Homo sapiens: one gene and its partners. The protein of the gene in region 4 interacts with the protein of the main gene of each other region in a pairwise test. Each region holds a gene or a part of one and is shown on either strand. Other genes may lie near its edges. The genes, in order: GAS2, SEPTIN2, PDCD2 and TBC1D21.

What was found.
Region 1: the proteins of TBC1D21 (region 4) and GAS2 interact in binary tests that used the Homo sapiens proteins (3 or more experiments, as listed by UniProt).
Region 2: the proteins of TBC1D21 (region 4) and SEPTIN2 interact in binary tests that used the Homo sapiens proteins (3 or more experiments, as listed by UniProt).
Region 3: the proteins of TBC1D21 (region 4) and PDCD2 interact in binary tests that used the Homo sapiens proteins (3 or more experiments, as listed by UniProt).

The regions. Positions count from the first base shown.
Region 1 is NC_000011.10:22,662,554-22,669,618, forward strand, and holds the start of GAS2 (growth arrest-specific protein 2), read left to right. Parts: upstream 1-4,057; 5' UTR 4,058-4,346; exon of another isoform or gene 4,347-4,641; intron 4,642-5,554; exon of another isoform or gene 5,555-5,782; intron 5,783-6,142; exon of another isoform or gene 6,143-6,290; intron 6,291-7,065. UniProt on the Homo sapiens protein: Required to maintain microtubule bundles in inner ear supporting cells, affording them with mechanical stiffness to transmit sound energy through the cochlea.
Region 2 is NC_000002.12:241,318,908-241,325,933, reverse strand, and holds part of SEPTIN2 (septin-2), read right to left. Parts: intron 5,732-7,026; exon of another isoform or gene 5,647-5,731; intron 1,719-5,646; coding exon of another isoform or gene 1,702-1,718; coding exon 1,693-1,701; intron 1-1,692.
Region 3 is NC_000006.12:170,581,637-170,589,204, forward strand, and holds the start of PDCD2 (programmed cell death protein 2), read right to left. Parts: upstream 3,002-7,568; 5' UTR 2,946-3,001; coding exon 2,663-2,945; intron 2,112-2,662; coding exon 1,869-2,111; intron 1,553-1,868; coding exon 1,421-1,552; coding exon of another isoform or gene 1,392-1,420; exon of another isoform or gene 630-1,391; coding exon of another isoform or gene 622-629; exon of another isoform or gene 1-621.
Region 4 is NC_000015.10:73,876,554-73,883,579, reverse strand, and holds part of TBC1D21 (TBC1 domain family member 21), read right to left. Parts: intron 2,182-7,026; coding exon 2,074-2,181; intron 1,937-2,073; coding exon 1,833-1,936; intron 1-1,832. UniProt on the Homo sapiens protein: Acts as a GTPase-activating protein for Rab family protein(s). Essential for the establishment of male fertility, and is required for both the production of normal sperm number and sperm function.

The DNA of each region.
Region 1 (7,065 bases), on a different chromosome or scaffold from region 4:
ATTAAACATTTATATTATACTTGAGGTACTTGTGATTAAAGTAACATGACATAGACTTTTTTAAGATTTAGAAGCAAACTACAAGATAAAGAAAGAAAGAAAACTTAAAAAAAAAACACCTTCAACTTAGACAACAGACGTCACACCACAGAAGGTACTGCATAGGATATTTAAAACTAGATGAGGCAGGGTGTGGTGGCTCATGCCTCTAACCCAGAAACTTTGGAGGGTTGGGGTAGGGCATCATGTGAGGCCAGGAGTTTGAGACTAGCCTGGGCAACATAGTGGGACTGTGTCCCTGGGCAACATAGTGGGACCGTGTCTCTGCAAAAAAAAAAAAAATAAAAATAAAAAATTAGCCACAGTTGGTGGCTGTGTTAGTCTGTTTTCACTGTGCTATAAAGAACTACCTGAGACTGGGTCATTTATAAAGAAAAGAGGTTTAATTGACTCACAGTTCTGCATGGCTGGGGAGGCCTCAGGAAACTTACAATCATGGGGAAAGGCAAAGGGGCAGCACGGCATGTCTTACATGGCAGCAGGAGAGAGAGAAAGAGAGAGGGGAAGTGCCACCCTTTTAAAACCATTAGGTCTTGTGAGAACTCCCTCACTATCATGAGAACAGCATGCGGGAAACGGACCCCATGATCCAGTCACCTCCCACCAGGTCCCTCTCTCAACATTTGGGGATTACAATTCTAGATGAAATTTGAATGGGGACATAGAGCCAAACCATATCAGTGGTGCTCACTTGTGGTCCCACCTACCGTGACACTGAGATGGGAGGATAGCTAGAGCCTGAAGGTCAAGGCTGCAGTAAGCCATGGCAACGCCACTGCAATAGCCCTTCTCAAAAAAAAAAATAAAAAAATAAAAAATAAATGAATAAAAGTAGATAAGACAAATGGCATATTTCACAAAATGATTTTTAATCTATTTCTTATGTAAAAATTAGAAAACATATGCTTATACCTAACACAATTTGCCAGAAAAAAATGAGTCTTGCACAGGAGGGAATTAATATTTATGCTACTGTTGTGTTGTACTTAAAAAGTTTAAAGTTCTCCACTGAGAGTAAAGTAATAGATTTTTTAAATTGCATATTAGATGGAGAGTAAACCTTGAACTTTACATATGAAATTTCTTTGATTTATCCTTGTAGTTTTATATATGAATGGTGGTGAAAAGTAATAGCATTTATCGTTTAAAATTTCAGAAACAGTCTGTTTTTATTCGTAACACTATTTGTAATGACTATGCTAGGATTTATAAAATTTATTCTCTTTGCCTTATGACATTAAAAAACTATAATTCAAAATATGTCAATTGAAGGCCTTATATTATAGACTAAGATGCTAGGTTGGGAAAAATAAACATATTTGACCTCACTGAGGAAGTATGTCAACAAAATGTAAGTAAATGATTTAAGTTATTATTAAATATATGTCTTCATGTATTTTTTAATACCATTGCATGTCTTCATACTGCTTTCTGTATCATTATTCTCACTTGCTTCCCAAGCTGTCTTTTGTCATTTTTAACTGCTCCTTTGAAGCTGTTTAGGAATATAAGTCTTTCTTGGTCACTTCTGGAAATTTATTTTACCAAATTTAACCCAGTGGCTGTTTCCGTGTTATTTAATTTTTTCTCAAAGTGTCCTCTAACCTCAATCATTTATTGAAGGTTTGCTTCACTTTTCAGAGTGAGTACTACATATATTATTTTCATTTGGGAGAAGGACTAAGAGAGAAAAGGAGAGTTATCTACATAGGAGGGAAAAATAACGTGTTTTATTGATCATTTTTAAACTCAAAAAAGTATTTATTAGAGAAATGAGAAAATTCATGTTTGAGACAATGTTGAAAGTTTAGAATGTGGGACACACATAGTAATGCAGAAATTTCCCGTGTTAAAGTCCTCTAACTGTGATCACTTGAAAATAAAAACTAAACTGTTTAAATCTGGCTTGACTTCTTTTTAATGGTGTTAAGTTTCAAGGATGTATTTAAACATTTTTCATCTTATTGAAGTATTTGCTTCCTTTGCATTCACATTAGAGAAGCTATAGTTGCTTCAGTTGGACTACATTTTCCTAAGGTGAACAGTTTGGGTTGAGTCCACACTAAACTAAGAAAATACTTAGACAAAAGATTATCTTTGACAAATATATCAGTGAGTGATCAGAATATATAAATAGAAATATTGATTTTGAAAAACAAGATAAAAATCAAATGGGAATTTTTACATATGCTAAAAAAATTAAAATAAAAACACTGTATCCGTGTCTCTTCAGAAATCTTTTGTATTACTTCTCTTTTGTCACCAAAAAAAATATTCAGTACAACTCTTAGATGTTAATGAAAGAAAAAACACATTATTTATTTCTTCTCGTATTTTTCTTTTCGCTCTTTCTGAGAGACAGAGGATCTGACATAATGCAAAATTTAAGACAAAAAAAAAAATACCTGGAAGAAATGAGCATGGAGAGGGAGTAATTTTGAATGATTATGCTTTCCCAATTCCTCTGTAAGCCTCCTTTTTTTCCCCAAACTGTATTTAGCATTGTTCCTGAATCAACAAAAACATTGCCTTACTCTTAGCTTTTTATAACACCAATAATGAACAATGTGACAAGAATATTCATATCTGGGGAGAAATAGGATGTAAGATTTTGAAAGTTCAAGGTGCTAAATTTTTTGAACTCATTACATATTTGGATAATTCTTAAATTAGCATTTATTGGCTGATGATGTTTTGATCAGGAAAAATTATCAAGAACATTTGATTTTTTACTAAATTGTATGTGTTCAGACACTCAAAATTCTTTGTTGGGGCTCTAGGAATACTCAGATCTGATCACATTTTAAGAAATTTTATCATTCAGATTCGTTTACTAAAACTCATCAGTAATGAGTTCTGTATGTTTTGTTGTTATTTATGTTTATCCAAGCTGTTATGTTGACCTTTTAAAAATGCTGTTTCTCCTTAAAATTAAGAATAACTATTTTTCCCTTCTTTTAGAAAGCTAAGGAGGAAATGTGGACCTGATAGCTGCAAAAGCAAATTGAACTAAAATAAAAAGTTCGGAGTTCAAGGACTCCAAACTTTTCAATCGGTTTTCTCTTCTTCTTTATTAAATGTATTGCCACTAGAAGCAAATAACTGATGCAGTTTCTGCCAGATAATGGCAATAATAAAGGTGAAATGTGAATATTTTTTAAATTATATCTAAAATCATCCACATCATTTAGCTTGTGGATGTACAGGTAGTTTCTATTTGGGAGTGGGGCTAGGTAACTCATCATTATAAAAATGGTATCCAAGCAAGGATCACAATACCTGTACCACTGCCATTGTAAACATTGGATGGCAATATACATGAAACTGATGAACATGAGAACAAAACAAAATAAAAAGTGTAATACATTTTATTTATGCTCCATGGGAGGTGGTAACCTGTGGGGATCAGCACACTCAGCAAGCGGTCCCCGCGCATTAGAGGTGAATCAGACACTTGAACATCTGTCCACTTCATGGAAGACGTTTCATCTCAGAATACACGTACTAATAAACAACAGTTGGAGACAATTGTCTCTGACATTCAACATAATGCTGAGCTGAGGCTGAAAGAAGGAAGGGTGGAATTGTATTTCCTTTGGTAAAGCAAAAACAGCCGTGAGTACAGCCTCTTCTAAAAATCTGATATTTAAAGAGAATTGTAAGACATCAAAATGTTCAATTTGGAATGAAGAGTGGCCGAAGTTACTGGAAAGCTCGTGCCTCCGTCTGCAAAATCACTGGCCAGGAAAGCAAAAACTTTTCCAACACCCAATTTTAATATTGTGCTAAAGCTATTGACTCTGTTAAACCTCTAGAGTTAAATATGATCCCCTCCCCAGCCCCCACCTTTTCTCTCTTAGGTTAGTGTCTGGGGGACAAGGAGGGGGCTGGAGCTTGGCCCCAACCTCGGAATTGCTGCCAAGGGCTTGTAATACAATCTCTCCCCGTTTGAAGGGTAAATCAGTGTCAACTGCATTTGCGTCCACCAAAAAAAGTAAGCATTTTACTTCCGCTCGGTCTATGAGGACTGATGAAATGTAGGAAATCTGTTTCTGGCAGGGAGAAAAAATCGTTTTCCCAAACAGCACTAAAAGGAGCCATCAGAGAAGTATGAAGAGGGGTAGTGCGGCTGTAGCTGCTGCCGCTGCCGCCAGGCTGGTGGGGTGCGGGGAGCGGCTGCTGCAGGACCTGTGCCTGGAGGGGGCCGGCCCCGAGAAGCTGCAGGAGCCCAGCCCGGAGCCCAAGCGCCTCTGAGAGCCGCCAGCAGCCCAGCTCGGGACGCGGGGGTGAGCACGACTGGCTGGCCCAGTTCTGCGCCAACGCCGCCGCAGCGTGCGCGCACCGCAGCCGGGGCTCACGGGAGCCCCTGCCTGTCTACTGCACCCGGGGCGGCGGGGGAGGGGAGAGGTCATTAAAAAATAACCTCAGGAACGAGGCGGGGAAGAGTGAAGAGCCGCGGACAGTTGGACAGGCTCTTTCTCTAAGAGTGGGTATTCACTGCAGGGGGTGACTTTCTGATTCTCTGGAAACAACCATGTGTTCCTTATCCCTATTGCGGAACACCCCGGACAACCGCAGCACGTAAGCCCGCTGGGGTGGCTCTGCCAACCAGGGACAGAGTGAGGATTTTTAATGAACACATCGATTATAAATGCACACATATGCATTCGTGCACAAGAGTATCTGTAATGCATGCTCAGCATTGTCTGTTATGGTGGGGTGGGATAGAGCCAGAATGGTCTTAAAGGGCTGATCCTGAATGTTTTACTTGAGTCGTTGAGGCCAGGATGGGAGGAAAGAGCGCCACATGTGTGATCTGGGGTGATACTCACTGTGTCTGATGAGTTTGATGAAATTGAGTTTTATGTGAATAAACAAACGCTAGCCGATATATATCAACACACTTTGGGGAGATTTTGCGTGGTATCGTTCTTTTTGTTCAGTCCAAAGTTGAGACTGGAATCTGAAATTGTTTGGGGAACAAAGGAGGCAATTTTGCTTTGGAGACATTATTTATACTGGCAAAATTAAATTCTGTCAACTCAGTATGGTAAATTACCATTAACTTAGCCCAGGTATCCGAAGAAGTTTCCATTGTCTTGAATGAAGAGGGAGCAAAAGCGAGGGTTAACAGATTCTGTTTCTACATTCTAAAAACAATTGAGGTTGGGGGAGGGTTGTTAATTCTTTTCCCAGTTAACCTTTTTGAAATCACAGTCTTTACCCTCTCCATCTTCTTCATCTTCATCCTCTCACCTCCGTGATCTTCTTACAGTGAAGAGTTTGCAAAACTTTATTCTTATAAAATTATCTCCTCCAACCCTCTCCAACAAGGTTAGATCAGTTGTGTATGAGAGATCTTATGCCAAGGAAATAAGATCTGCTTGTGCACAGGAACACCCATTTGACATCCTAGTATTAAAATAAAGGCTTAGACAGTTTGGATGTACCAGCCTGGCAGAGGAAGTCCACTTTTCCTCCCCACGTATCCCCTGAGATTCACAGAGGCAAGGCAGAGAACAAGACCTGTGCTTCTTTACTCCAAACTCTTAGCAGTGTGGACACTGATTAACTGCAGCTGGGGTCTGATTTGCCCAGCCTGTCTTTGATATTGATCAATGAACTCCTTCTCAAGGAATGCTTTCCTCTAACTGCGGTGAAGGTGGTGGCTCTGGTGGTTCTCTCCAACATGGGTGTCTGGGTTTTGACTGCCTAAGAGAAGGTAAGGGACAGATGGATGAGGCATGGGACAGTGTGCCTTTGCAAAGCACATTGGAGACTTTGCACAGGGCTGCCTGAATGGTCCCTTACATGGAAAAGGTAGCTTGGATTTCAGCCTGAATGCTACTGAAGTTTGGGTTTATTTCATTACTTTATTGCTAAACACTATGCTGTGGTGTTATGGACTGTGCTTTACTGGGAAATAAGTTCACATGGCAAAAAAATATTTCACCAGGTGCAAAAGGTCATGTGATTGCCCTGGAATTTTTTAGCATCTTGGTTAGAAACTTCAGTTAAACCTCAAACTTTCGAGTATGGTGAAATACCTGGTCTTATATTAACCCTAAGTATGTTGTGTGTTACTTAGAAATCTTACTTCAAGACTGGAAGTCTGCATTGAAGACTCAGGGAAACTTTGGAAAACTAAGTTACCTTGGTTGAGAAGGCATGATGAGGCTGTAACTGTTTACAGAGAGACTTTTGTTTAAAACTGCAGGGCATGTTGTAAGGTTGGTTTGGTATCTTTGTGGTTTTGATATTAAGGTCCAAACAGGATCCAACTGTTTCTTTAAACCTGAGCAACTAGGAAGGTTTCCACTCAATGTTTTTTGACTAGAGAAATGAACTGGAGTAACAGTAGAAAATAATCTGCTGTCAAAATTAAGTAAGAGGCTTATGTAAGTTTCTGTATTAAATGTTTTCAGCATCAATACAATTAAAACTTTGCTAATTTTACTCCTTTATGTGAGACCATGTCACATATGTGTATATATTTCCACAGAATGTAGAACCCTGCTGGTTCTTAACTACATTATAGTTAACTAAAACAGAAATCTTTATATTAAAACAACAGAAAAGAATTTTCTCAACTTAGATAAAATTTTGATGTAAATCCTTAAATATTCTAGTTGTTAATATTGTTAACAATAGTCATTAGACTGTCATTAGACTGTCAGATGGTTTTCTATTTTAATTATGTTCCAAGCTAATCTGGTAGGGGTTAAAAAAACCTATGCTAAATTGTTTGGAAGGATGTTTTAGTATGATTTCTTTAAAACTTTAAAATATCCCTAACAACATGAAAATATAGAAAATCAATTCCCATTCAGGTTTTTTTAAATCATGATTTGAGAAGAAATTGTTATTTGTAACTACACCATCATTTCACCCAAGACAAATCAAGATGGGACTGTGGGATAAGAAAGAGATCTCTAAAAGAGAGTCAGCACTACACTAAATTAAGGATCACAAGAGCTGAGTAGGATACTTTTAATAATTATGACT
Region 2 (7,026 bases), on a different chromosome or scaffold from region 4:
TAATCAGTTAGACATGAAACAAACATAGGTTATCAGTTTTCACAAATTTTTTAAAAAGTATAAACACTTCCAGAAGGTCATACTTCTATCAGAAAACCAGTAGTATTCAACTAGGAGCATTAAAAAAAGAAAAACTTATCTAGTATAACTCCTTAGTTGTATGCGACTGAAAATTAACATTTTGTTAATCAGTATTCTGTTTAGGAATTTAACAATACATAGAAGATACATGCTTAATACATCTTAATGCAATTTCAAATTTCGACTTGAGAGACTATGGAGTTCCAGGAAAATCAGTCAAGCTTACAAAGTACTGCTACAGCTGACAGTACTTTGAATGAATGGTTTCATTCAACAAACTTGGCTAAAGAATAGCTTCTCCCAGGTATTAGGTGCAATGCATTTCTGAAAAGTATCGAGGAAAAAAGCATCTCTCTTGCTGTGCTTCTAGCTCTATAGAACAGAGTTTCATCAAGGGTGAGGCAGGCAAATTAGGGGTGGGATGTTGAGTATCTAGTGTCAAAGACCAAGAAAGAAAAGACAGAATGAGAAGATCATAGATGACTACACTGAAGCATCAATATTCCTTGACAGAAGGGTATCTGATGAGAGAGAGGACAGAGATATGAGAAGGCAAGAATAGCAGAAGTAACCAGAATCTAGACAGTGGCATACTGAAAATGAGAAGAAATTTTAAAAATCAATTTATTAATTGAAAAAGGCAAGATACAAAATAGTATTTCCTTTAGGATTACATTTTGTAAATGTATAGTCAAATGCACACACAGGTGAAAAAGAATATATGTAACATATTAACAGTGGTTATTCCTGAGTGGTGAAATAATGACTTTTTTTTTTGCTTATCTGTGTTCCATGCTAACACTGGTATAAAATGCAAAAACTGGTATGATGATTTTGCATTGGACAGTAATGAACACCCACAGGATTCAAAGATAAAAAAAAAACAGAAATAATAATCTTGCAATGTTAACCACAAGTTCTGCTTTTCTCAGAATATGTTCTTTAGCACTAATTTATCTCTGAACTAACTTGCAAAGGCTGATTTAAACCAATTTATCAAGTCTAAGAGCCCCATCAATTTCATCATAATAAATTATCAGAATTCTAAATTATCTGGTCTGCTGGGAATGAACTAAGGGGGCCAAAAGGACTGTTACTGATGTGTGTAGAGAAAAGAAAGTAGAAGCCTGAAAAAAGAGAAAGCTCCAAGCTTTTAAGATGACAATTAGGCCAGGCACGGTGGCTCACACCTGTAATCCCAACACTTCGGGGGGCCAAAGCGGGTGGATCACGAGGTCAACAGATCAAGGCCATCCTGGCCAACACGGTGAAACCCCGAATTTACTAAAATCCAAAAAATTAGCCAGCGTGGTGGCACGTGTCTGCAGTCCCAGCTACTCCGGAGGCTGAGCCAGGGGAATCGCTTGAACGTGGGAGGCAGAAGTTGCAGTGAGCTGAGATCATGCCACTGCACTCCAGCCTGGTGACAGAACAAGACTCCCGTCTCAAAAAAAAAAAAAAAAAGACAACTAAATTAGAACTCTTTGTGTTAATGAATCAAATGTATCAGTTGTATTAAAAATAATGAATCATATAAGTCCCGACTGTCAACAGTCTGAAAACATAAAGCAATTTCTCCTTATGCTGTAGATACATGAAGTATGATCTTACCTTAGACATCTTTTGTGAAGCTTCGTCTGTTAAAAAAAAAACACACAGACACACATAAACGCACATACATAGTATGTATGTATACGCACGTATATTTAACAGCGTGAACTGACCTGAAGAAGACTTACACATACATAGGCAATGTAAAAAGAAAATACAATTTCAGGACCTTCCAAATGCATTAGGCCAAAGGGAAAAGTTAAGCACTGACAGCTGGCTCGTGTAACATCACTACTTTTATTCTTTCTGACTTTTGTGTTTAGATGTATATATTAACCAGACCCCCTATTCTTTATTCAAAACTAGACTAAATGACTGGGAGATGAGAGATCCTTATGACTGTTACTTCTTTACAAAAGGAAGTTAAACAAATCCCTTCAAGTGTAATCAATAGTAGCCAATCAAATTTGTATCTTTAAATGAGCCTTAGTTCCGAAAATGTTATAATTCTGTTTGGCACCTCCATTTTGCCTATATAAACAATCCTCATTTTTCCCCACCCTGGGAGCGCTAATCACCATTCTTTGGTGTAGCTCGCTTACACTCTGTACTTAAATGAATTCTTTTAACTGAATCAGGAGCCTTTTGATTATTTTAGGTGACAGCATCTCAATTACTTCAAATATTTCCCTAGGAATAAGACAAGCATCTATCATTACAAAAATAAATTCGATTAAAAAAATTAGGCCAGACGTGATGCTCACGCCTGTAATTCCAGCACTTTGGGAGGCCGAGGTAGGCAGACCACTTGAGGTCAGGAGTTCAAGACCAGCCTGGCCAACATGGTGAAACCCCATCTCTACTAAAAATACTGATTCAGCCAGGCATGGTGGCGCTTGAGGTCAGGAGTTCAAGACCAGCCTGGCCAACATGGTGAAACCCCGTCTCTACTAAAAATACTGATTCAGCCAGGCGTGGTGGTGCGTGCCTGTGATCCCAGCTACTCAGAAGGCTGAGACAGGAGAATCGCTTGAACCTGGGAGGCGGAGGTTGCAGTGAGCCGAGATCATGCCACTGCACTCCAACCTGGGCAACAGAGTGAGACTCCATTAAAAAAAAAAAAAAAATTAGATGGTGGCTGGGTGCAGTGGCTGACGCCTGTAATCCCAGCAGTTTGGGAAGCAGAGGCAGGACTGCTTGAAGCCAAAAATTCAACACCAATCTGGGCAACATAGCAAAACCCTATCTCTACAAAAAATTAAAAAATTAAAAAAATTTTTAAGTTGATAAAAGCAACTGTATATATATATGTACGCACATATTCCATATTTTCAATAATATTCAAATTTTTTTTCAGTACTGACTATATGTTAGACACTAGGGACACAAATGGGATACACACGGATACATACTTCCCTGACCTCTGGAATTATGTCATTTCCCCTCTCTCTTTGAAACCTTTCAAGGAGTAAGGGACTTCATTACATAGAGCACTGTAACTTGAACATGTTTGCCACCCACTGGAGTTTCCTAGAGCTACCTGAGAACTAGATTTTGACACTGGGGTACAGAGAGCAATGTGAACTACATTTATGAGGAAAGGAAATAGTACTGAAGGCATCTGAGTGTCTGAAAAATGTGACAATATTTTTAAAGATATGTGGAATTTTTTTTTCTCTTTTCTTTTTTTTTTTTTGAGACGGAGTCTCGCATTGTCTCCCGGGCTGAAGTACAGTGGGTGATCTCAGCTCACTGCAACCTCCACCTCCTGGGTTCACGCCCTTCTCCTGCCTCAGCCTCCCGAGTAGCTGGGACTACAGGCGCCCGCCACCATGCCCGGCTAATTTTTTTTTAATTTTTAGTAGAGATGGGGTTTCACTGTGTTAGCCAGGATGGTCTCGATCTCCTGACCTCATGACCCGCCCGCCTCAGCCTCCCAAGGTGCTGGGATTACAGGTGTGAGCCACTGTGCCCAGCCAGAGATATGTGGAATTTTTAAACAAATTTTAGAAACCCTGAAGCTTTGGAAAGCATGGAGTCTGTTGGCTAACCTTCAGTAACAACCCCAAGAAAGATGACTGCTGTCAAATTTGGTTCCCTCTGGAGCTTAGAAACTTATTAAAAAGCTTCTCTCACTTTGCCTCTCGATTCCCCTCCCCCAAATCTTAACTTCCTGAATACTGTGTCCTCTGTTTCCCTTTTGACTGGAAATGTTCCCAGCTACTTTGGAAGAAATGAGATCCCTGCATCCCCAGTGTTATTTGGCTTGGTTAACCAAGGGATAGTAGCAGTAAGGTTCAAGAGCCTTTAATTTCAGCAAAACCTAAGAATTGAGAGCAAGTGTGAGTGTGGAGGAGTAGAACTTCCTAAAGGGAAAGAGAAGGGTCAGATGTAATACAGACAGTTTTGGCAGAAGGAGTTGGCATCTCGTTTTCAAATAATACAGAGATAAGTATCTGATTATGAAAGTAAAAAAAAAGGTAATCATTAAAGAAAATAACAATGAGAACTTCCAAATTAAGAGAAAAATATGGAGGAAACAGCAACTTCATCAAACCAGCAAAAATATGGAAAAGGAACAAGAAGAAACAAAATCAGAAGTAATCCTAAATCAAGACAATGGGGACAAAATTCAAGAATATCAGTTATCAGTATAAATGTGAAATAACCAAATTCTCTGCTTAAAGGAGAAGACAGATTGGCCTGAAAAACCAAGGGAAAAAAAAAACAAAAACAACAAACCGTCCAGCTATAACGTATATGCTTAAAGCAAAAGGAACAAAGAGAGGCTGAAAATAAAGGGACAAGGTAAAAAATAGCAGGCTAGTGCAAACATGGAGGAGAGACAACACTACTATCAGCCAAGGTGGGAATTAAAGTAAAAATAAGCAGAATAACAGGGATAACAAGCTATAATGATAAAAGAAACAATTTATAGGGAAGATGTAATATTCATAAGCCTGTATATTCAAATAATCACTGTAGATAAACACATAAAGCAAGGACTAGGAAAAATACAAACTTAAAAAAAAAAATTCAAGTGAGAAACTTTAATAGAGTTCTCTGAGAACCGGACAGATTCAGTAAACACAGTATGTGCAAGGACAGAGAAGAACTGAGTAATACAACAAATACATCTGATTTAGCAGACATAGAGAAATTTGAATCAATACCTTAAAAAATGTTTGAAGTCATGTATCTACCATAAAAAAAAGCCTAAACAAAATTTGAAAAACATTTTTACAGTCAATGTTCTCAAATAATTATCTGCTTAAATTGGGTGGAAAAAGATGAAAAGTAACTCCCAGTAATTTGTTACATTACTGGATATCCCCAGGATCAAGGAGGGTAACAAAAGCAAAGCCATAAGCAATCTCTAGAAAGCAATGGAAGGAAGATAAAAGCAAAACTTAGGAGATAAAACAGGAAATCAATAAAGAGAAAAAATGAATTATGAGGGGGGGAAAAAGAAGGGTAAACAAATCCAAAAGCTGGTTTTCTTTTTGTTTTTTGAGATGGAGTTTTGCTCTTGTTGCCCAGGCTGGAGTGCACTGGCGCGATCTCAGCTCACTACAACCTCTGCCTCCTGGATTCATGCAATTCTCCTGCCTCAGCCTCCGGAATAGCTGAGATTATAGGTGCCCGCCACCACGCCCAGCTAATTTTAGTATTTTTAGTAGAGATGGGGTCTCACCATGCTGGCCAGGTGAAACTTCCTGACCTCAGGTGATCCTCCCACCCTGGTTTCCCAAAGTGCTGGGATTACCGGCCTGAGCCACCGTGCTTGGCCGCAAAAGCTGGTTTTCTAAAACAAATTCCTCACAAGCCCAATTCAGGAAAAAATAGCAAATATAGAAAAGTAGCTAAAATAATGACAGAGAAGACTACATGTAGCAAAATGGCCCCAAATCTGAAAATGCAGAAAAAATGGGCACTGTAAATTACCAATACAGAACCAAAAACTGGAAAATCTGACTAAAACAAGTATCACTAAGCAGCTGATTAAAGACATACCAATGAAAAGGACCAAGACTTGACGTTAGAGTTGAACTCCATCTAACCTTGGACAAGACCAAAGTCATTTAACTATTCCAAGCCTCTACAGAGAAAAGGGAAAACAATTTGTTTTATGAAGACAGCACAGTTTTAATAACAAACCCAGATGGAGACATAAGAAAGGAACAAAGGAATGAATGAACGCCATAGGCCAATCTCACTCACAAATATAAATGCAAAAATCCTGAATACAATATTTGCTAGCAATTAGATTCCAGGAATGTATCAAAAGCATCTACCAATATTAATCCAACAACACAGTATAGGGGAAAAAAAATCATGCATTAATAGATGCTGATGAGGCATATGAAATTCAGCAACCAATCATAATGAAAACAGTAAGAAAACTGCTGGCAGAGTGTGGTGGCTCACGCCTGTAATACCAGCACTTTGGGAAGCTGAGGCAGGAGGAGCGCTTGAGCTCAGGAGTTCAAGACCAGTCTGGACAACATGGTGAAACACTGTCTCTACAAAAAATACAAAAAAATTAGCTGGGTGTGGTGGCGGGCACCCGTAATCCCAGCTAAGTGGGAGACTGAGGTGGGAGGATCCCTTGAGCCCAGGAGGTGAAGGCTGTAGTGAGCCGAGATGGTGCTGCTGCACTCCAGCCTGGGTGACAGAGTGAGACTGTCTCAAAAAAAGAAAAAAAGGAAAACTGCTTAAATCTAATTCAGGATATTTCTGAAAACCAAAGGCAAATACTGTTTTCTAAACAATAGAAAATTAAATCTATTTAAATTACAACCGATAATTCGGCAGGAATGCCCTTCCATAATTATTTTTAAGCACTTACATGAAAACTTTTACATGAAGACCTATACAAAAAGCAAACAAAACCCCCATGTGCTATCCATTATCCAGCTTCAACAATTAGCAACTGAAGGTCAATAATGTTTCATCTATTTCCACAATCATCAATGCCACTGCCTGGATGATTATGAAGCAAATACGAGATGTAACATTTCATTTATATTCCACTACACATATCTAAAAATAAGGGCTCCTAAAAATGACAAACCATTACACATAGCTAGTTCTTTAATGCAATCAAATATCCAATCAGTATTCATATTCTCTATTCTCTCATTTTTTTCATGTGAATCAAGATCCAAGTAAGATCCAGATATTGCAATTTCACCATGATTATTTAATACTACCTTGGTGAGTTTACTGAATATAATGAAACAAGAAAATCAAAAGAAAACACTTTTTTGCTGATTGGACTGAATACACAGAAAATACAAATACTCGGCTGGGTGCGGTAGCTCATGCCTGTAATCCCAGCATTTTGGGAGGCCAAGACGGGCATATCACGAGGTCAAAAGATTGAGACCATCC
Region 3 (7,568 bases), on a different chromosome or scaffold from region 4:
ATTATCTTCCTCCTACGCCCAACATCTCAGTTCTCAGTAACACCAACATAATTACTCGTTTCCTTTCCCCCCAATACACACACAACCATCTCAAAATAAAAGCAACAGTCTAGTAATAACATGTTTATTCAAAATACTAACACTGTTACATTCTTTTCATTCTCAGGGCATATTCTACTAGAGATGTACTGTCCTATGTTTTGAAGTCACCTGGAAGAGTTCTTAGTGTGGTTATATGACTACATCAAGAGTTTTTTACTTTTGATGATTAGGGACTGCTTTTTAAAACTTACTTTACTCCATAATCTTAAAATACTCATACAGTTCCACAGTCACATTTACACTAACAAGGCATATTTGAAGTCCAGCTTTCATCCTTGATCCTGCTACTCTAGGCTCTCCTTTCTCCTAAAGATAAGCATTTTCATTATGTATCATGTTTATCGTATAGGCATGAACACACGCGCGGCCCCTTCCAGGCAGTCTTCAGTGATGTCACGTGTTCCCATGGCACCTGTATTGTACTCTTATCAGTCATTATATGGACTTTAACTTCCCCAGATATTATTTGGGCTCCTCCATAAGACTGTGAGCATCTGACCACTGGAGTGTTGCTTCCCATTATATCCCTGTTATCAAGCACAAGGTCAGGCACAGAGTAAGACTCAAAACATGTTTTGGAATGTATGACTGGTATGAACTACAAACCAGTAAGCTGATGTTTTCATTTTGAGTCTATAAATCTAATTTTGTGGTGGTTTTGTGTATGGCTCAAGGCTCAAATTGTAAAATTTAATATTATGTGACCAAAGAAAGTTATACCCAGAACCTCAATTTCCTCACCTTCAAAATGGGGCAGTTTCTCACTCATTGGTCTGCTGTCACGATTTTAATGAGCTCATGCACAAACAGCCCTTTATATAAGGTAAGTGCTGGATAAATGTTGGCTACTATAATAAAATAAGCCTCTAAGATACTTGGTCAGCACAAGTACTACCCAAGAGTATGCACTGTAAGTAAACTGACAAAATTGTGTATCTAAAACTGGCCAGATGAAAGAGAAACTTTTAAGGGGCCCTTCTGCGTGCCCGACACTGTGCTAGGCACTCACACTATCCCGACCCGAGAAACCGATCTGCGACCCAGAGGAACTTACCAAGCCTCCAGCATCTTGTGCAGCCCTACTCATGGGACCATCTGGATACCCACCCTTGTCTTTACAGGGAGCAGAACACACCTCTTATGTGTCAGAAAACAAAGTCCAGGAAGTATATTTTTACCTGAGGCAATATCTGAAAATTGTATGCTACAGCCTCCAAAGTGAGTCTTCCTCTCAGTACCTCTCTTCTAGGCACATGGAGCCCTTTCTTCCAAGTATTATGTTTAACCACTTAATGAATGAAGTCCTGAAACTGCTTACCCATGCTCCCTATAATCTCTGAGTAATCTTCCTTTTCCACAACCTCAGGCATAATCTCATCTTCTGTTTCTATTACAATTTCAAATTCTGGAAAAAGGAAGTTGTGGTCTGGAATTATATGGTCCAGATGATCTGAAACAAAAAGGACAGCACTATTAGTAATCATTTAGTTTTGAAGACAGTCTAATAATTTGCTGTCTCTAAAGTACTATATTCCCTATAGTTCTGGCATTTTAGATAAAGGGTCATAAATTAAATGCCTATATGGTGACATTATTCAGTGATTCAGACTTCACAGCCTTTTTTTTTTTTTTACAAAGGTGTTCCAGGCATGAAAAATTTTAAAGTACTATACCTTTCCTAATTTTACCTTTAAAGTTGTCCTGGAAATATCTGGGTTGACAAAGGCGATGAAACTGAACTGAGACTTAAAAAAAAGATTACCCACCTGGTTGTGCACAAGCCTGCTTATGTCCCAATCTCCAGTCTAGGGTCTGATGCTCCTTGCTGCAGTAATATGCTTTGTGGCATCTGGAGCACGTTTTGGGGCCTAAACAGCCACAAACCCTGCAGAGATGAGCACCAGACTTAAGCTGGAGACACACTGATTCTCCTGTTTCTGGGGGAGGATTCTCAGAAGGTGGCTCATATGAGTAAAAATCGTTTTTCCTGGGTAGTTGATTCCTAAAAACTAAAAAAGAATACAGAGAAAAGTTTTATCTTCAAACAAAACAGCAATTCACATATTTTATCCTCTGCACGTAAAACTGAAAATAACAACAACAAAAAAGAAATGAAAGTTTTTGCTTTCAGGAATAAGCTTTTAAAATCCAGAAACTAGATTTCGTCCGGTACACGCAACTGAGTTGCCTCCTAGAGGTGGTTTGAGTTAATCAAATTAATAAGACTGATCGTTAAGAACGACTGCCAAAAATACGAAAAAGCTACTGGGATCCATCTTTCCAAGACAATTTCTATTATCTGAATTAACACCATACCTGGTACCCACTGATTAAAAGCTGGGGGTTACCAATGCGCGTGGGCACAGTTAGAAGCTTATGTAGCAAAAATGAGCACATCCTGGAAGGGCCCGGGAGAAGGTGCTCCTGGGGCAGCGCGGAGAGGGAGCTCTGAGGCTGGGGCGGCAGCGGTGCTTGCCGCCGTCCCCCTGGTCGCTCCCGGAATTAACGCCGCGCACGCGTCGGAGGCATGGCCCCGTCCCGACCCCGTTTGGCGGCTCACCTCGCAGGCCGGCACAGCACGGCTGCTCGCGGCAGCAGAAGAGGAAGATGCAGCGGTGGAAGGCGTCCGGGCGGCCAGGCAGCGGCGCATACACCTGCAGCAGGAAGGAGAGCGGGCGGCCGCACAGCTCGCAGGCCAGGGCCTGGGGCCCCGGCAGCCCGGCCGCGCCCAGCCATGCCGGCCGCCCGCCCACCTTGCTGGGGAACTGCTCGCTGCGCAGTCGCCACGCCGGCGCCGACTCGGCGAAGCCCAGCTCCACAGGCCTGGCCCCGGCGGCAGCCATGCGGGGCGCGGGCTGGCGTGGGGCGCAGCCCACAGCTGGGTCGGAAGGCGGAAATCGGGCGCCGGGCCGGAAGGCAAGAGGCGGGCACCTTTCCGGAGGACAGGAGGCGGAAACGCGTCTGACGGGAGCGGTTGCAGGACCAATGCGAGGGAACGGGGCAGAGGAAACCTCTCGGCATCAGCCCCGCCCCTGGCGCCTCTGCCTCCGAGCCGCTTTCCTGGTGCCTCCGGGTGCTCTGGGATGGTTCTGGTCTTTGGGAGAGTGGCAGCTGGTGACGGCGCTCCGCTCACCTCTGCACATGTCTTGCTGTGGGCCTGCGGGTGGCCGCCAGGGAGGCAGAGCCCTCCCGCAAACCTTCCCTGCTGGTGTCCACCTCAGGGTGTGGGAAACCTGTGCGCTGGCCGAGTGCTAACCAAGAGTAGGCAGTGAAAGACAAATGAAGGTTGAACAGGTAAAGTGAGGACCCTACAGCGGAAACCAAGAATCCTGTGTGCCTGAGAGTAATGAAGAAGCCTCTGCAGAAGAGTCTTTTCTGTCAGTCTTAAGGTCTCTGTTTTAATGTTAGTGCTGGCTTGCTGTACCTGAATTCCAAGGGAGGAGTGTATAATGAGGCATGGCCAACCCCCACTTCCCATCATTGCCTGAACTAGTTTTTCAGGTTAACTTCAGAATGCCCTTGGGCAAGCAGAGGGTCCATCAGTCGGTTGGAGGGTTTAGAATTTTACTGTTGGTTTGCAAAGGTCTGAAAGAAACATGTACCACCTGTTCTCTTTAAGGAGTTCTACTTAGGAGGTTTCATTTACATAACAAGACCGTGGTTGTCAGCCAGGTCTCCACCCGCATAACCTGTTATGCCACAATCCAAACCCCCATTCTGTAACCTCAAGATGGTATATAAGTTTCTGAACCCCATTTGGGGCTTCAGCAAAATCACTCTGGTTCTCCCCCATGTGCATGTTAATAAATTTGTATGCCCTTTCTCCAATTAATGTGCCTTTTGTCAGTTGACTTTTCAGTGAACCTTCAGAGGACAAAAAGGAAGCTTTCCCTTGGCTACTACAGTGGCTTTAATGGAAGTAAAGTCATCAACAACATTTATTTTTGACAAAATCACAGTTTAGTTGGCAGTATATTTGTTTGTTTTTGTTTTATTTGAGATGGAGTCTCGCTCTGTCGCCCAGGCTGGAGAGCAATGGTGCGATCTCGGCTCACTGCAACCTCCGCCTCCCGAGTTCAAGCATTCTCCTGCCTCAGCCTCCCGAGCAGCTGGGTAGCAGTATATTTGTAATGGTACATAAAATAATGTCTGTTTTTAAATAAACATTTACATTGTAAACCAAAAGTTAACTCTCCATCAATTTTTTTTTTTCTTTTTTGAGATGGCATCTTGCTCTGTCACCCAGGCTGGAGGAGTGCAGTGGCATGATCTCGGCTCACTGCAACCTTCGCCTCCCAGGCAAGCGATCCTCTTGCCTCAGCCTCCTGAGCAGCTGGAATTATAGGTGTGTGCCAATACAACCAGCTAATTTTCGTATCTTTGGTAGAGACAGAGTTTCACCATGTTGGCCAGGCTTGTCTCGAATTCCTGACCTCAGTTGATCTGTCCGTCTCAGCTTCCCAAAGTGCTGGGATTACAGGCATGAGCCACCACATCCGGCATCCATCAATTTAGAAAGTTTATTTCACCAAGATTAAGGTTGCACCCGTGACACAGCCTCAGAAGGCCCTGATGACCATGTGCCCTTGGTGGTCAGGGTACAGCTTGCTTTTATACATGTTAGGGAGACATGAGACATCAATCAGTATGTGTAAGATGTACTTTAGTCAGGTAAAGCGGGACTTGAGGTGAGGGCTTCCAGGTCATGAGTAGATAAGAGGCAAAAGATCGCATTTTTTTGAGTCCTTGATCAGCCTTCCACTGAATACACAATTTAGTCTGGCTCAGTGAATTATCATTTTTACGTAAACAATAGGGGAGGGGAAGCAATTAGATATGCATTTGTCTCAGGCGCACCTTAAAGGGATAACTTTGAGTTCTGTCTGTCCTTTATCCACAAGGAATTTCCTTGTGGGCAAATTTTAAGGGAGGTACGTAGCCTCTTATCTTGGCAGCTATCTTATTTAGGAATAGAATGGGAGGCAGGTTTGCCTGACATAGTTTCCAGCTTGACTTTACCCTTTGGTTTAGTGATTTTGTGGTCCTGAGTTTTATTTTCCTTTCACAGAAATTATACCGTAAAAGTAATTGAAGAAAATCACTTCTTTCCCCTTCCCTCAACTAGGCCTTGACCATTTTAAATAAAATCAGGATTTGCTGAAGGTCAACAAATTTAACCAAGTTCAGTTAAAACTTAACTCTGAATCTGTATGTCCCTGGGGTCTTTTCCAGTGAGAGATGTCTAAGCATCATTCCAAGCTTTTCTATACTAACTGGCCTATTTGTATGTTTCTTATTTTAGGATTCCTTTTGTTCATGTGTATTTTTATTAGGCAATCACCCATTTCCTGTAGGTTTCCAGGTTAATATATTTTTCTTATTGGAATTTTAATTTATCCTCTCTAGTTTTCTACATATTTTTTTTTTCTTTGAGACGAGGTCTCATATGTTGCCCCGGTTGGCCTCAAACTCCTGGGCTTAAGCAATCCTCCCACCTTGGCCTCCCAAAGTGCTGGGATTATAGGTGTGAATTACTGTACCCAGCCTAGAATCCTTAGTCCTATATACTTTTGCTGTTTTTTTCATTGCCAACTTGAAATAATAAAAAGGGTCAGAATCCTATAAACCAAAAATAAAATAAGGCCCCCCAACCCTCTGAATGGACTTCCTCCTCTGACACAGATCTTTTACAATTTAACCTGTATGAACCCCAAAAATTGGAGACAGGTCTCAGTTAATTTAGAAAATTTATCTTGCGAAGGTCAAGGACACACGATTATGACAGCCTCAGGAGGTCCTGACGACATGTACCTAAGATAGTCAGAGCACAGGGTGGTTTTATACATTTTAGGGAGATATAAGACATCAATCAACATATGTAAAATGAATATTGGTCAGGAAAGGTGGGACAACTCAAAGAAAAAATGGGACAACTCGAAGTGGGGAGGGGCTTCCAGGTCACAGGTAGGTGAGAGACAAATGGTTGCACTCTTTTGAGTTTCTGATTCACCTTTCTAAAAGAGGCAGTCAGACATGCATTTATCTCAGTGAGCAGAGGGATGACTGAATGGAATGGGAAGCAGGTTTGCCCTAAGCAGTTCCCAGCTTGACTTTTCCCATTAGCTTAGTGATTATGGGATTCCAAGGTAATTTCCTTTCACATTTCCCCCCTTTTCTTTTTTAAAATATTTTGGAGAAAGCATTTTTGAAGAAAATAAGTTTCTGTTCCCAGGTTTTATCTGCTCTCTCATGGCTAGGATGGTTTTTTCCTAGAAGGGTAGGTCCTGAGTTATTAGGAAAGCTCATTTTTAGAAGGTTGTGAAGTCTAATATCCTATCAAGAGAAAATTTGGGGAGGAAGGGAGAACAATAAGAACAATCTTGGAAAATTGATCTAGGCCACATTACTCTGAAGTCCATACATCAGTAAGCAGGTATGAAAGTGGCTTATGTATGTAAATAGGTTCCCATTATTTTCTTCTGAAGTTTAAGTTGTCTACTTCAGTTCACAGGGCTTCACGAAAGTTAGTTTTAAGTGACTTAGTTTAGTGACAGCTTAGTTTTAAGTGACTCCAAATTAGGAAAAATGGGGAAAAAAAGAAGGAAAAAAATTGAAAACATTATTTTGAAGACTTGTAGCCCACAAAAATTAGAATTTGGTCCAAACTGTAGAAAATGATAAAAATTGAAAAACATTAGGCAAGACTAGAATCTAACAACTGGTGGACTATAGTTTTCCAGTCTCTAGTTTCCCATTTATACTAAAGACAAATCATGATAGGTTTGCCTTATTATATTTGGCCGAATTATTTGTATACAGTGCAGCAAGAATAATTATTTTTTAACATTGGCTTTTAAATTGGCTTTGATGGAACTTTGTTCCATAGAGGGTATTTCAGATAAGACTTTTTAAAAGCTGAGCCCAGCCATGGATTTGTGCCATCAAATACCTGTGAGTTTGGTGATCCTCTCCTCTTGAGGTTCCAAGATAAACTTGAGGCTCCTGGGCCTGTCAGAAAGTGACATTCTTTACTTACCACAGGTCAGGAACCCTGTACAGGAGCTGTGTAGACAAAGTTATGAGGACGGTTTTTCCAAGGGGGTTTAATTGGCTCCGTAAGTCAAGTAAAAGCATTGGTAAACAACCAGTTTCCCCAATTGTGTCCTGTTACAAATGAAAACAGATTATTAGTGCACTTATGCAAATAACTGTATTGTCATAAGTTAAGAATACTTACAGTTTCCAAATTCTGGAGAAATCGGGTAGAGAGAACCAAATGTGCTCCAAATTTTGTTCATAGGAGTATGTGTTACTCAATTGTTAAAAGCTGCAGATAGCCTGACCAACATGGTGAAACCCTGTCTCTACTAAAAATACAAAAAATAGCCAGGCATGGTGGTGCGCACCTGTACTCCCAGCTACTTGGGAGGCTGAGGCAGGAGAATCACTTGAACTTGGGAGGTGGA
Region 4 (7,026 bases):
CTTTCCAGGTGGACCCCAAATCCAATGACATGTGTTCTTATAACACACAGAAAGCAGAAGGTCTCACCACCATGGGGACAGGGAATGGAGTGAGGCAGCCACCAGCTGAGGAACACCGGGAGCCACACAAGCTGGGAGGTAAGGAAGGGTTCTACCCTAGAGCCTTTGGAAGGAGCCAACACCTTGATTTTGGGCTTCTGGCTCCAGAACTGCGAGAAGACAGGTTTCTGTTGTCGGAAGCCACCCAGTTTGTGGTACTTGCTAAGGCAGCCTCAGGAAATGAACACAGGTGGGCTCTTGTCAGAGCTCCTGAACCTCTCTGAGCTCCCTAGCCCAGCCCTCACACCCCCGTCCCACCCCGGGTCACTCTGGCTGGCCCCGACACGTGAATCTTTTCCACATTCTGTCTGGATGCTCCCTTGGGGCTGGGCCTAGCCCCTGCTTCAGGCTCCCAGACAGGTGAGTCCAGCCCAGGCTACATAGTCATGCAGCCACAATCCAAAGGAGTCCGTTCCTCTGATGGGAAGATTTTCAGCAGTGGAGTCAGTCTGACTCAGCCAGTGTGTACGGAGCCCTCCCATGGACAGGCAAGGTCAGGAGAGGGCCCAAGACAAAGGCAAACTGGCTGCAGCCTCTGCCCTTGTTTGCATTCAACCTGGGAGGGAAGACACAGGCTCCGTTCTCACTACTGTGGGACCAAGTGCCCAGGGTCATGGAAGTGCAAGTCAAGGGCCTCCGGCTTCAGGGAGGGAGGATTCCCATCAAAATCATAAAAGCTACTGATTCCTCCCCTGTGCAAGGTGCCTTACCTGTATTATCTGATTGAGCCCCCACAACCACTCTGTGAAATAGATTGTTACCTGCATTTTATAGAGGAGGAGACTGAGACTTCAGCACTGAAGTTCATGGGCAAGTTTACCCAGGGTGTAAATCAGAGTGCTGAAATTTGAACCCGGTTTCCAAATCCAAGACGGTCCAAGTTCAAAGATGGTGTGTTATCTACTGAAACAAAGTGCCTCATCCCTGGCTCCCTTGGGAGATCTGGGAGGGCTGCTTGGAGTAGGTATACTGTGGGATCTGGGCCTTGAAGGAAGGGTGGGCTACTGATAGGCAGATGATAGAAAGCCATTGTGGAGGGAGGAGAAAGGGTGAACCAAGGACAGAGGGGAGTGCAAACGTGGTCTGTGCTGGGGCAGGAGTGGGCAGATGAGGAGTCAGTGAGGCTGTCAGTGTGGTTGGAATGTCAGGCTCTGGGATAGTGGGCGATGTGGAGCTAGGATCAGGAAGTTTTTGGAAGAGAAGATGTGCTATTTGAAACGTTACCAGTTACACCACTGGGAGTGTTTCATCTAAGGACACAGGCAGCCCATACTGGGTTTTGTACCTTCCCCTGGGCACCGGGAGGAAACAGTGGGCACAGGCAGGGAGTGGGGAGACTAGACCCGGGAGGCAGCTCAGCCATGGGGGGCAGGGAGGAGGTGGAGTTGGGGTGGCACCCAGGGAAGAGGGTGGCAGACTCTGTTCAAGGGCTGCTTCAGAGGAAGAATGCATAGGCCATAAGGAAGGATGGGACTTGGGGCCCAGGGGTAAGAGGAGTGGCTGGGACCAAGCCCATGCCTGGCAGTTGATGGGCTGGTAAATGGAGCTCAGGGAGAGAAGGCACTGGCACGAACTGGCCGCACCTCCTGTGTGCTGTGCCTGGGTCAGGAGGCATGGGGTTCCTCTCGGAATAAGAAGTTGCATGGGGGCAGAAGATAGTCTGCAGGCTGGGGAGGCAGCACCTGCCACCTGCAGGCCCCCCTCCTGTCCCAGCAGGGTCTGGAGTGTTCTACCTCCTCATGCTGTCCACCGTGAGCCGCTCATCCTGGGAACTCTGCCATGAGAAGTAGCCCGTGAGGAATTTCCAGGCTTCAGTCCTCACGAAGGGGTGCAGACCCTGGGGTGGGGGTGGGAGGTGGAGGTCATGGGCTCTATCGATGCCTACCAAAAGGGCTTCATCCAACGCCACACCTGCCCCCTGCCCATCCATGCTCCCAGTTCCAGGGCAAGGCCAAGGGTAGCTTGGGGACCCACCCTTTCCAGGATGTTAACACAAATGAAGTCCCGTGATTTGGCCAAGTGGCCACTCTCATCAAAGAAGCTGTCCCATTCTGTCTTGTCAATGGGTGGTTTTCTCTTCACCTGGCAAAAGCAGCAACCAGTTCTGCCTTATGTTAGAAGGCTTCGGCTTTTAAGTGTGATTTTAAATAATATGTTCTGGACTTTGCAATATGTATCAAAGCGCACAGCCTGACTTACTTCGGAAATCTATCTTGAGGACATTACTGAAAATATATAGAAAAAATCCTGTATGCACAATAATTTTCATGCACATTACTCACCAACATGAAAAATGCAAGCACTCTAAATGTTCTGCAATAAGGGGGTAGTTAAGTAAACTGTGGTTTATGTGCTTAATGGAATATTTTGAGGCATATAAGTGTTGTTTACAAGGAATGAATAATAATCAGAAAAAATACAAATGTTAACAGAAAAAAGCAGAATACAGAATTGTATATCTAGCATTTTCTCTATGTACTATATAGTACAACTATGGCCCTCATAGTAATACCTATGTATTGTGTCCGTTATATATTATAATAATACCCCACATAAACTCTAATATATAATGCATTGACTACTATAAAGTTGTTAGAAAAAGACTGAGAAAATACAAAAAAGTTCCTCTCCCCCACTAAAAACAGCAGTGATTATCTCTGAGTGATAGGAAATAAGTACTTTTTATCCTTTTTCTTGTATTTTTTATTTTTCGAGACGGAGTCTCACTCTGTCGCCAGGCTGGAGTGCAGTGGTGGATCTCGGCTCACTGCAACCTCTGCCTCCCAGGTTCAAGCGATTCTCCTGCTTCAGCTTCCTGAGTAGCTGGGACTATAGGCACGCGCCACCACACCCAACTAATTTTTGTATTTTTAGTAGAGAGGGGGTTTCACCATGTCGGCCAGGATGGTCTTGATCTCTTGGCCTCAGGTGATCCACCTGCCTCAGCCTCCCAAAGTGCTGGGACTACAGGCGTTAGTCACCGCACCTGGCCTTTCTTGTATTTTTAAAATTTTCTATAATAATGTACACTGCTTTGATCACAGGAAAATATAAAATAAGCATTAATTAGACACAGTTATGAGCTCCACTTTACCTTTCCTGGAAATGTAGAATGGTTCATTATGAGAGATAGTCTCTGCTTTTGATAAGGGTGTGTGTGTGTGTGTGTGTGTGTGGTATATATCTGTGTGCTATGTGTATGTGAACATGTGTGTGTGTATGTGTTGGAGAGAGGTGAGTGCACTGCATGCAAAGTAATTCAAAATGCTTATAAAATAATAACTAGGGTCAGGTGCAGTGGCTCATGCTTGTAATCCCAGCACTTTGGGAGGCCAAGGCAGGTGGATCACTTGAGGTCAGTTCGAGACCAGCCTGGGGCAACATGGTGAAACCCTGTCTCTACTAAAAATACAAAAATTAGCTAGGCATGGTGGCGCATGCCGGTAATCCCAGCTACTCTGGAGGCTGAGGCAGGAGAACTACGTGAACCCGGTAGGCAGAGGTTGCAGTCAGCCGAGATCTCACCACTGCACTCCAGCCTGGGCAACAGAGCACATAATAATAATAATATCTCTAACAACAACAACAACAACAACAACAACAACAGGAGTGAGGGTTCCTGTTGGAATAAGAGAAGATTCCTTTCTTCCTGGGATACTCTCTTCTGCTGGAGAGAAGAATATCTTGAAATGCCACATTGCAGACATAAAGATGTGCTGATGGACAGAGCTGAGTAGACATGTAAATATACACACTCCCAACTTCCCATTAGTATACATCTGAATATGTGACTCAAAATTAAATTGGCGTACAAATCACTTAAGGATCTTCTGCAGGTGCAGAGTTGATTCAGAGGGTTTGGGGTGGGGCCCAAGATGATGCATTTCTAACAAGCTCCTGAGTAACAGGTGATGCTGCTAGTCCACAAACCACATGAGTAGTAAAGTATTAGAAGGCAAAACAGGCCAGGCATGGTGGCTCACGCCTGTAATCCCAGCACTTTGGAAGGCCCAAGCTGGCAGATCACTTGAGGTCAGGAGTTCGAGACCAGCCTGGCCAACATGATAAAACCCCATATCTACTAAAAAAAAACAAAAAACAAAAATTAGCTGGGTGTGGTGGCGGGGTGCCTGTAATCCCAGCTACTCAGGAGGCTGAAGCAGAAGAATCGCTTGAACCTGGGAGGCGGAGATTGCAGTGAGCCAAGATCATGGCACTGCACTCCAGCCTGGGTGACAGAGCAAGGCTCCTTCTCAAATAAATAGATAAATAAATAAATGAAGGCAAAGCAGCATTGTTAACTAAAAATAAGAGCCTACAGGCTCCAAATTGGGATAATTTCTACTAACTGTATATTTGATGGAAATGGATTGAGAAACACATTTTTAATAACTCATGTATGCCCTGTCATCTGAACCAAAATAGGACACATGGGCCAAGAAGTTACAAATCTCGGTGTGGGCCTAACCCTGGGAAGCAGGGTCTGCCCTGATGTGTTCCCCACCTGCATAGACACTGCCACTCATCAGAGCAAGCTTTCTGCCCCTCTGATTGTCATCATGTTCTCCCAACCTACACTCATTCAGAAACTGCAACACTCAGCATGCAATGTGGCAGGAAGCAGAAGGGAACAGGCAAAGCTGGGCTGTGTCCCGGGATCCTTAACTATAAAAGGAAATGCTTTAACTTTAGAAATGCATTTCCATAAGGATTTTAGTCAATTTGTCCATTTCTATAATAAAGGCAGCTGTGATTTTGGTGGAGACTGTATTGAATCTGTAAGCCAGTTTGGGAGAATTGATGACATTATTGAGTCCTCTGACCTGTGAACACAATATATTTCTCTGTTTATGTAGGTCTTTTAAAATTTCTCTCAGCAGTGTCTTGTAGTTTTCAGTGTCTAGGTCATTCATATATTTTGTCAAGTTTATCCATAAGTATTTCATATTTCAGATGCTACTGTAAAAAGTATCATTTTAAAATTTAAATTTCTAATAGAAATACAATGTACTTCTATATATCAATCTTGTATTCCTGCAACCTAGTAAAACTCACTTAGTAGTCGTAGTGGCTTTCTTGTGGATTCCATGGGATTTTTGACATAGACCAGGGGTCAGCAAATTATGATCCATGGATCAAATGTGGCCTCCAATCTGTTTTTCTAAATAAAGTTTTATTAGGATACAGCCACACCCACTCATTTTTGTCTGTGGCTGTTTTCATGCTATGATGGCAGAGTTGAGTAGTTGCAACAGAGACTGCGTGGACATAAAGCCAAAAATTCTATTGTGACCTTTGCAGAAAAAATTTGCCAACTCTGACATAGATGAGCATGTTCATCTGTGAGTAAAGGCAGTTTAACTTCTTCCTTTCAAGTATGAATACCTTTTATTTATTTTTTCTTGTTTTACTGCACTGGCTAGAACTCAAGTGCAATGTTGAATAAACGTGGTGAGAGAAGACATTCTTGCTTTGTTCCTCATCTTAGAGGAGCAGCATTCAGGCTTTCACAGTTCAGTATGATGTGAACTCTAGGCTTTCTACAGATGCCTTTTATCAGGTTGAAGACAGTCCCTTCCAGTTCTAGCATGCTGAGAGTTTTTAATTAGGAATGGATGTTGGATTTTGTCAAATAATGTTCTGCATCTGTTGAAATGGTCATATGGTTTTCTTTTTTTGAGTTTGTTAGTATGGTAAATTATATTGAGTACTTTTGAATGGTAAGTAAGCCTCACATTCCTGGGATAAGCCCCACTTGGTGATGATATACTATGCTTTTTATACATTGTTGTATTCTATTTGCTAAAATTTTATTTAGAATTTTTGCATCCATGTTCACAAGAATCATTTGCCTGTGAGTTTCTTTTCTTGTAAGATCTCTAATTTTGGTATCAGGGTAATGTTGGCCTCATAAAATGAGTAGGGATTTCTTTTTTTTTTTTTTTTTTTTTTTTTTTTTTTTTTTTAGTTTTCTGGAAGTGTTTGTATAGAATTGGTATTATTTCTTTTTAAAATATTTGGTAGAACCAGTGAAGCCATCTGGGCTAAAGTTTTCTTTGTGGGAAAGTTTTTAATTGCAGATTCTATTTCTTTATTAGATATTAGGATGGAGTCAAAAGAAATTGCTTTATTTTTTACTTTAAAAATTAGGAATTTATAGGAACAGGACATCTTCCAACTCACTTTAAAAAATAAAAGCAAGCAATATAGGAAACAACAAGGAATTAATAAAAGTATAAAGCATAAAAATGATAGAAACCCAAAGCAATTAATTATGAAAATAAATGCATTTCATTCTCTTATTAGCTGTAAACATTAAAAAGCAATTGATGATGTGCCAGACACTGTTCTAAGCACTTTACATATATCAACCCATTTAATCTTCGCAAATATCTATGAAGTGGTAAAGTTCTTGTACTGTTTTACAGATCAGGGAACTGAGACCACAGGAGGGTTAATTAGCATATCTGAGATTAGATACAGAAAGTATCAGAGCTGGAGTTTGAACCCTAAGCTGTTTGATGCAACAGTCAGAGGCTTAACCCTAATGCCATGCTGGGGGTGGGAGGGGCAGTGGGAAGGAATTAAAAGGCAAGGATTTTCCACTCAAATAAAAAATATGTATCTTACACAAGCTGTGAACAAAAGAAATACCTTAAAATCAAATGCCCTACAATGATTAAAAAATAAATGACGAACAAAGATACGAAAAAAAGTCAAACACAATGGAGAGGTAATATTGAAATTAAAGTAATATGCACCGCACACCGTAACAAAAGATACAGCATCAACGCAATAAGGCAGAAATAATTAGAAACATCACAAGAAGACATCTGTTGAGTATTCAGAGAATTTGCATTTCTAAACCTCTACCTGTAACAATTGGCCATCTGCCTACTTTGCCGTGGTTGAATTTGTTTATAAAAA